Homo sapiens: one gene and its partner. The protein of the gene in region 2 purifies or fractionates together with the protein of the main gene of each other region. This does not show direct contact. Each region holds a gene or a part of one and is shown on either strand. Other genes may lie near its edges.

What was found. The genes of interacting proteins can lie anywhere in the genome.
Region 1: the proteins of ASIC1 (region 2) and POM121C purify together in Homo sapiens (affinity purification with mass spectrometry, with the first as the bait; one large-scale study listed by BioGRID). This does not show direct contact.

Annotation. Positions count from the first base shown.
Region 1 is NC_000007.14:75,423,480-75,427,385, reverse strand, and holds part of POM121C (nuclear envelope pore membrane protein POM 121C), read left to right. Parts: intron 1-932; coding exon 933-1,024; intron 1,025-1,677; coding exon 1,678-1,751; intron 1,752-2,190; coding exon 2,191-2,312; intron 2,313-2,757; coding exon 2,758-2,860; intron 2,861-3,160; coding exon 3,161-3,337; intron 3,338-3,906. UniProt on the Homo sapiens protein: Essential component of the nuclear pore complex (NPC). The repeat-containing domain may be involved in anchoring components of the pore complex to the pore membrane. When overexpressed in cells induces the formation of cytoplasmic annulate lamellae (AL).
Region 2 is NC_000012.12:50,064,096-50,068,001, reverse strand, and holds part of ASIC1 (acid-sensing ion channel 1), read right to left. Parts: intron 1-3,906. UniProt on the Homo sapiens protein: Forms voltage-independent, pH-gated trimeric sodium channels that act as postsynaptic excitatory receptors in the nervous system, playing a crucial role in regulating synaptic plasticity, learning, and memory.

The sequences.
Region 1 (3,906 bases), on a different chromosome or scaffold from region 2:
TTGGCTCACTTCAAGCTCCGCCCCCCAGGTTTACGCCATTCTCCTGCCTCAGCCTCCCGAGTAGCTGGGACTACAAGCACCCGCCACCACGCCCAGCTAATTTTTTGTATTTTTTTGTATTTTTAGTAGAGATGGGATTTCACTGTGTTAGCCAAGATGGTCTCCATCTCCTGACCTCGTGATCCACCCCCCTTGGCCTCCCAAAGTGCTGGGATTACAGGCGTGAGCCACCACGCCTGGCCATGACAGCGTATTTTTAAAATGAAGTTACTAAATGAAAAATCGAAAATTTAATGGAAGCAAGACTAAATTAGTTTACTGGGTTGTCTTCTTTAATTTACTTGTATCCTTTCCGTAGACAGTCTGGCACAGGTTTGAATGTGTCCTGGCTCTTCATTACTGAGGCTAATATATGCAAAAGTGTGTCCATCCCTTCTACCTTTATTCACATTCCATTACTTTTATAGACTTTTCTTTTTTTGCTTTCATAATTAATACTGGCAGTTGACTTTCTTTTCAGGGGTCTTTCTTCACAAACAAATTTTTTTCATTTTCATTTTCTATTTTTTTTTTTTTTTTTTTTTTTTTGAGACAGGGTCTCACTCTGTCACCCAGGCTGGAGTGCAGTGGGGCAATCTCAGCTCACTGCAGCCTCCTGAGTAGTTGGGACCACAGATGCAAACCACCACACCCAACTGATTTTTCAATTTTTTGTAGAGACGGGGGTCTCGCTATGTTACCCAGGCTGGTCTCAAACTCCTGGGCTCAAGCAATCCTCCCACCTTGGCCTCCCAGCATGCTGGGATTACAGGCATGACTAACCATTTAACCATAAAAAATATTTTTTTAGTCACTTAAAAAGAGACTTTGTCATGTTGAGGGTCAGATGCTAAGTTATCAGCAGGCTCAGTCATGTCCCTCTTGATTTTTAGCTGTGGAAGAGAAATGGCCCCAGTTCATCACCCTTCTCTAGCCCAGCCTCATCCCGCTCCCAGACACCGGAGAGGCCAGCAAAGAAAATAAGGTATTCGGCATTCTCCTGCAGTTTTCATTTGCTACGTGGACAGAAGGGGGTGAGGAAAGGTGGGAAACGAACCTGGCTCTTAGGCTTTGTGCTGCTGTGACTTGGAGAATCAAAGAAACTAAGTCCCTGAGAGGGACAATGCAGCACCCACCTGAACAACTATCATCCCTACAGTCTTGGATACTGACTCCAGTGGCCTCTGGCTGTCGCCTCCCACTCCAGCATGAGGGATCGGGTGCAAGCACAGAGGCCATGCAGAGTGGAGAGCAGAGAGAGTCAAGTCAGCGGGCAGTCGCCTTCAGGTTCTTGACTCGAGCTGATCCCCTAGGTGCTTGCAGTTGGCTGGAATGCCACTCCCTCAGGGATCACATCTGTGTCTAGAACTCCCAGGGACTTGGTAGGTTGTAAGTAAGGTTTGAAGATTATTGTTTTGTGCTTGTTTTAAGACAAAAACTGTCTTCATGGCCTCTGTGAACAGCCTCCCTTCATTCTGTTGGAATTTCCTGTTGACTTTTTTTATCCTGGCATACTGAGATCTTAAATGATGGTTGTTTTAGATGTTGGCCACTTGGTAGTTAGGAGGGTGTGAGAAATTATTTAATACTTCAGCCAAGAAGTCTTTCTAGACTAAATTGTTCCTTTTTTCCCAACAGAGAAGAAGAGCTGTGTCATCATTCCAGTTCTTCAACTCCATTGGCAGCAGACAAGGAGTCCCAGGGAGAAAAGGGTAGGTTGCTGAGCCAGGAGGAGGGGCTGCTGTTGGTGGTGGAGGTATTTGTGGAGGATGTAGAGATTAATACCTATTGAAAAAAGGTCTTGAGCATTGCTATGTCTAAGGCATGTTAGATACAAAGAGAGAGATTTCCTCTCCTTCAGAAGTTTATAGTCTGATGAGGGAGAAAGGCTACAGATGGGGGCTAACGATTGGATAGAGGTAAGCTCAGTTTGAGTCACCTGTGGGTGATCCCAGTAATTACTGCACAGTAAGCGGTTTGTGTGCGCGCCTTAATCTTACAAACACCATCCAAGCAACCAAACCATAGAAGATTGAATCTTTTCAGAGATACCATCATTGAAAACTCAGTGTGAAATGCGAAGTGGGTAGACACAACCATCCATTTCTGGAAGAGGGAAGGAAGCAAACGAGTCTTGATTTCTTTCTTTAGCTGCAGATACAACCCCAAGGAAGAAACAAAACTCGAATTCTCAGTCTACACCTGGCAGCTCTGGGCAGCGTAAGCGGAAAGTTCAGCTGCTGCCTTCTCGGCGAGGGGAACAGCTGACCTTGGTATGGTCTTGTCCATCTACTCCTGCCCTCCCCGGCTTAGCTCTCCTAAGTCTTAGGAACGCTAAGGACAAGTTTCTTCTGTTTTTTTTTCTAACTTATTTTTGTTTTTGTTTTTTGAGACAACATCCCTCTGTCACCCAGGCTGGAGTTCAGTGGCTCGATTTTGGCTAACCGTAACCTCTGCCTCCTGAGTTCAAGCAATTCTCCTGCCTCAGCCTCCCAAGTAGCTGGGATTACAGGCGCTTGCTACCACGCCTGACTAATTTTTTGTATTTTTAGTAGAGATGGGGTTTCACCATGTTGGCCAGGCCAGCCTCAAACTCCTGACCTCAAGTGATCCAGCTGGCTTGGCCTCCCAGAGTGCTGAGATTACCGGCGTTAGCCACCACGCCCAGCCTTCCCGTTTTTTCTGATTGGCCTGACTTCTTCTTTTTCTCTTTGGTAGCCTCCACCTCCCCAGCTTGGCTATTCGATCACTGCCGAGGACCTAGACTTAGAGAAGAAGGCTTCATTACAGTGGTTCAACCAGGCCTTGGAGGACAAGAGTGGTAAGGAGCACAGATCGTTGCACTCTCGAGAGGTTTCAGGTGTCTGTTTTCTTTGGTTTTATTTTGGTGTTTGGAAAAATGGGTTTCTCTGGGAAAATCCGAAGTAGAGTTCCATGTTTTCTTGTGGTCTTTCTCACCTGAGATATCCGTGTTGGTCTTCACGGGAACTGGACAGCAGGGACTACTGCAATTTAGGGCAGACATTCCTCCATGAGCTGTGCTGAGAGCCTGCTCTCCGACAGGCATGTGGAAAGAAGTCCCAGACAAGCCAGGACTGCTTCACCTTTCTTTCTTTCTTAGATGCTGCCTCGAACTCTGTCACTGAGACCCCACCTACCACTCAGCCTTCATTTACCTTTACCCTGCCTGCTGCTGCAACTGCCTCCCCACCCACCTCCCTCCTGGCCCCAAGCACCAACCCACTGTTAGAGAGCTTGAAGAAGATGCAGACTCCCCCGAGCCTGCCACCCTGCCCAGGTGAGCTGGAGTGGGGCCGTGGATCCAGCCTTCTGAGCAGCATCCCCGGCTTGGGTTGGAATAAGGGCGTCGTGCCTGTCAGTCGCTGGAGATTGCTCTGCAGGCCGAACGCACCCTGGCTCAGCACACCGGAGCGGGCCTACGTTTAACAGCGCCGGAGCCCACATCAGGAAGTGTTAGAGAAGGGGTGCTGCGACGCTCAGGATCTGAAGCCTGGCTTAGCTGCCCTGAGCCTCGCCTTCCTCATTTGTCAGATGAGAATGATCTTCCCGGTGCAGCACCTCTGAAGTGTGAATGTGGTGGCGTGGTCAGGATATCCTTGCCTGTCAGAACTACTGGTCCAGAACAACACTGCTTCCTTTCCCTCCAGCACTTTGAGGGCTGCTGGTGTTCCCGGCCCAGGCCTTCACGGCACTGCGCGCGCACACCTCTTTATCAGACGGTAACCTGGGGTTCGTACGCACCCTCCCTGCTCAAGGGCAGAGACTTCCCCATTCATAGTTGTGTGCTCTTAGCGCCTGGCAGGTGAGCTTAGTAGGCAAATAAAGTATATCTAGATTCATACGTGA
Region 2 (3,906 bases):
AAGGAACTTTCTGGGGTACTGGAAATGTTTTATACCAATGCAATATGCAAAATACTACACTGTAAGACATACCAGTGTAAAAATTTTTCAAGCTGGTGCATTGTACTCTTATGATTTAAAAGAAGATTAAAGCTTGAGACTGAGCCTTGAGTAGTGATGACACTAAATGGCCAAGTAGAAGAAAATGAACTGGCAAAGAGACAGAGGAGTGGGTAGACATAGGAGGAAAACAAAGAGAGTATGATTGTCAGGAAAGCGAATAGTTCAAAAAAGAGGTGGTGGGGTCCGGGCGCAGTGGCTCACGCCTGTAATCCCAGCACTCCGGGAGGCCGAGACAGGCGGATCACCTGAGGTCGGGAGCTCAAGACCAGCCTGACCAACATGGAGAAAACCCGTCTCTACGAAAAATACAACAACAACAAAAAAATAGCCGCGCATGGTGGCACGCATCTGTAATCCAGCTACTCAGGAGGCTGAGGCAGGAGAATTGCTTGAACCCAGGAGGCGGAGGTTGCAGTGAGCTGAGATGGTGCCACTGCACTCCAGCCTGAGCAACAAGAGCAAAACTCCGTCTCAAAAAAAAAAAAAAAACAACAGCAGAAGAGTTGGTGGGCAACTATTTTAAATGCTATTGAGAGATCAAGAATAATAAAAAAAATATTTGCTGGATTCGGCAACATGAAGGTGACCACTGGCCTTAGCTAGAACCATTTAGGAGGAATGGTGATGATGGGGGAAGAAGGCAGCCTGGAGTGGATCAGAAAGTGAGTTAGAGATGAGGAAATAGAAACAGTGAAATAAACATATCACTTTTAGGAACTTTGTAAAGGGAAGCAGAGAGATACTATAGGAGCTGGCAGGTGCTGTGGAGTTGAGAGACACATGTTTTAGTTTTTATCTTAGCACAAAGACCGATACATAGCAAGTTCTCAATATATGTTAGCTGTCGTTACAGCTATGTATTTTAAGACAAGAGCATCTTCAGCATGTTTCATTGTCAATGGGGTTTCACTTGAGAAAGAGCGACCAACTGTAGAGCAGGGAGAGACAGAATTAGCAGGAGAAAGATCTTAAAAAGGCAGAGGGAATAAGATGAAAATTCTAGGTTGAGACTTTATCCTAGATAAGATGAATGTTCCCTTCTAGGGCTTGGTACCCAGAAGAAGGACAAGATCTTGTCTGAGGCTTCTATTTTCTCAGTGAAGTAAGTGGTAGCCAAGGTCATCCGCTGAGGGTGAGAGAGGAGCTAGGAAGGGTGACTGAGAAGAGTGGAGAAGTTCGAAGTAGTCATCAGAGAGAGCAAGCTGACCAGGAAAACACAGTGGGGTTGCCAGGCAGCACTGCACGCCCATTTAAGGATGTTGAGCATGAACGCAATGTGATACTAAGCTGCCCTGGTATGTGACTTCCTCAGGGAGGTCCTGACTGCCCTGGTGTGACCCTGGGGAAAGCCAGTGGTGGGTTCACCTAAGATTGGCACTTGGCCTGATGATGCAATGAAAAGACAAAAGCATCAAAAAACTAGGCCTACTCAACTTGGGAACGGGATTCCTAGGGTCTCTTCTCTATACCCTTTCTTGCCCTTCCTGCCTCTCCACACTGCTTCTCAACAGAGCACCCTCCTCCATACACACTCCTACAGCCACACACAAAGAACCCGGACTTAGAAGATCTGAAGTCAGGGTCCCACTCTGTCATTTCCCAGCTGTGTGACCTCAGGCAAGTCACACAACTCCTCTGAGCCTCAGTTTTCCCATCTTTCCAATGAAGATGTTAATAATTTCCTTCCTACAAGAATTATGAAGATCACGTGAGCTAAAGTAAAGGGAATTTGTAAATTGCAAAGCACAACTGAAAGAGATGATTAATTTTGCTAGTATGTGCTCTGCATGCAACCAGAGGTTTGCCTACACAGAAGCTTTCTCTCACAGCCACACACACCAAGCTGCATGGGCCCCCATACACCTCCACATGCTTCCACTTCACACTCTACATTCACACTCCCCTGCAGACACACACAGAGGTGCACATGTGTGCTTGCATGCTCGGGGCGCATATGTGATGAGGGTGTTGTGAGGAAGTCTGAGATGGCTGCTGTCCATGGCCAAGGCCACTGCCACAGTCTCACCCCCAGGGATGTTCTCAGCCTGGCATGCTGGTGTGACACCAACTAGAGACACATGGCACTAAGCTGCACAGCCCAACCTCCTGGGCCCCCAGAACTGTCAGCCACACAGAGGGCATGCAGAAGGGTGGGAAAGCATTTTCTATCCAAGAACTCATGGGATCTCAGAAAGATCACAATTGACCCTCCCTCTCCCTGGAGAGTGGCCTTGGAGAGCCTGGGGTGGCAGTGTCTGTCCTTACAGTTCCTTAAGGGAACTTCCCTTTCAAGTGAATACACAGCAGCTTCATGATCATTTTTAAATATTCTATGAGGAAGATGTCCAATTCCTGTGTCCAGGTAGGTTGGCGCTGCACATCCATTACACATGGGGCACCGTGGGCTTGGCCAAAGAGTCCCAGAGGAAGGACTGCCCCTCAATAAAGAATAATTTTACAACCTCCTTACAGGAGATTGGGCTTAGAAGCTAAGAAGTGGGGCCAGGTGGAACTTTGCCCAAAATAGAGACCAGGAGCCCTAATGCCCAGTCCTATCCTCCACCCAGCTAGGCACCCCTTCTCATTCTCGCTGTCTCCTTCCAGCTTTGCCTCCCAGAATGCACACCTAAGGGTCCTGACTGGGACGTTATAGGTCAGAAGGTAGAGGCTTCTGCATTGGCCACCCCAAACATACAAGTGAGGGAAAGCTTGGGGGTGGGGGTGGGCAGGGGTTGGCCAAGGCGGAAGAATGGCCGGAGAGAATTGGCCGGTTGATTTAGTTAGCTGGGGAGACACCAACATATTCTATGAACCTGGCATTTTCCGAGAGGCTGAGTTTGGCTGGGGAGATTGGGAGGACTCCCCCTGGATGTTGAGAGTCTGCTCATCCCCAGCATGTTCCCCCTTGTTCTGAAGCCCACCCCACTGGGCCCCCTTTAGTACCACCCCCATGGCTCTCAGCCCTGAACCTTCCGTGCTGCACTTAACTGCCCCAGCGCAGGACCTGGCACATGGAAGTGGCACTGTCTGCTATGGGAATGAATCCAGTGGAGCTTAACGCTCCCCTAATCCCAGCTTCTCATTCTGAATATTCTGTCTCCCTCGCTATCCCCAGAGAATTGAAATTACTTTCCACAAAACTGAAACACACTCAGAAGCAACCTCCATCCACAGCAGAACATTCCAAGCCTCTCTGTGGGCCTGCCCTTCTGCCTCCAGGACACACTGGGCATGCAGTGGCCATATCCAGGAGTTCTCCACCAGCTGGGCAGTGACAAAGTCCCAAGACTTAGAGGTGCTCCTCCCCAGCCCTCCACTTCCAGGCTTGGCCCCCAGAGGCACTTAGTTACTGAATTCCCTATTGCTTTAGCCAACAGCCCCCAGGTCAATTAGCTTAGAGTAGTTCTTAGCTGATAGCTGTCTGAGAGAGGGATGGAGTCAGAAATGGCTGGGGTCTGGGGAGAAGGGGAAGAGGTGAGAGAGGAAATTGGGCTACCTGAAGGATGTTTGTGTGTATCTGTGTCTGAGAGAGAGGCAAAAGGAGACATCTGAGACCCCAACCCAGGGACCACCCACTGGATTCCTGCAACTGCAATGGGCTCTGCTCCCATCTCCTCTCTCCACCCACCTGTGTTCAGTTTAGGCACTTCCTAGGAGAGAGGGACAGATGAGAAGGATAAGGCAGGAGGTGGTAGCCATGAACCCCTAGGGCAGGAACCCTTCCCCCAAAGTTCATGAACCCCATGAACCCCTCCTCTAAAGTTACTGTCTCCAGGTCGGCCTCTTCTATCCCTCTGCAATCTG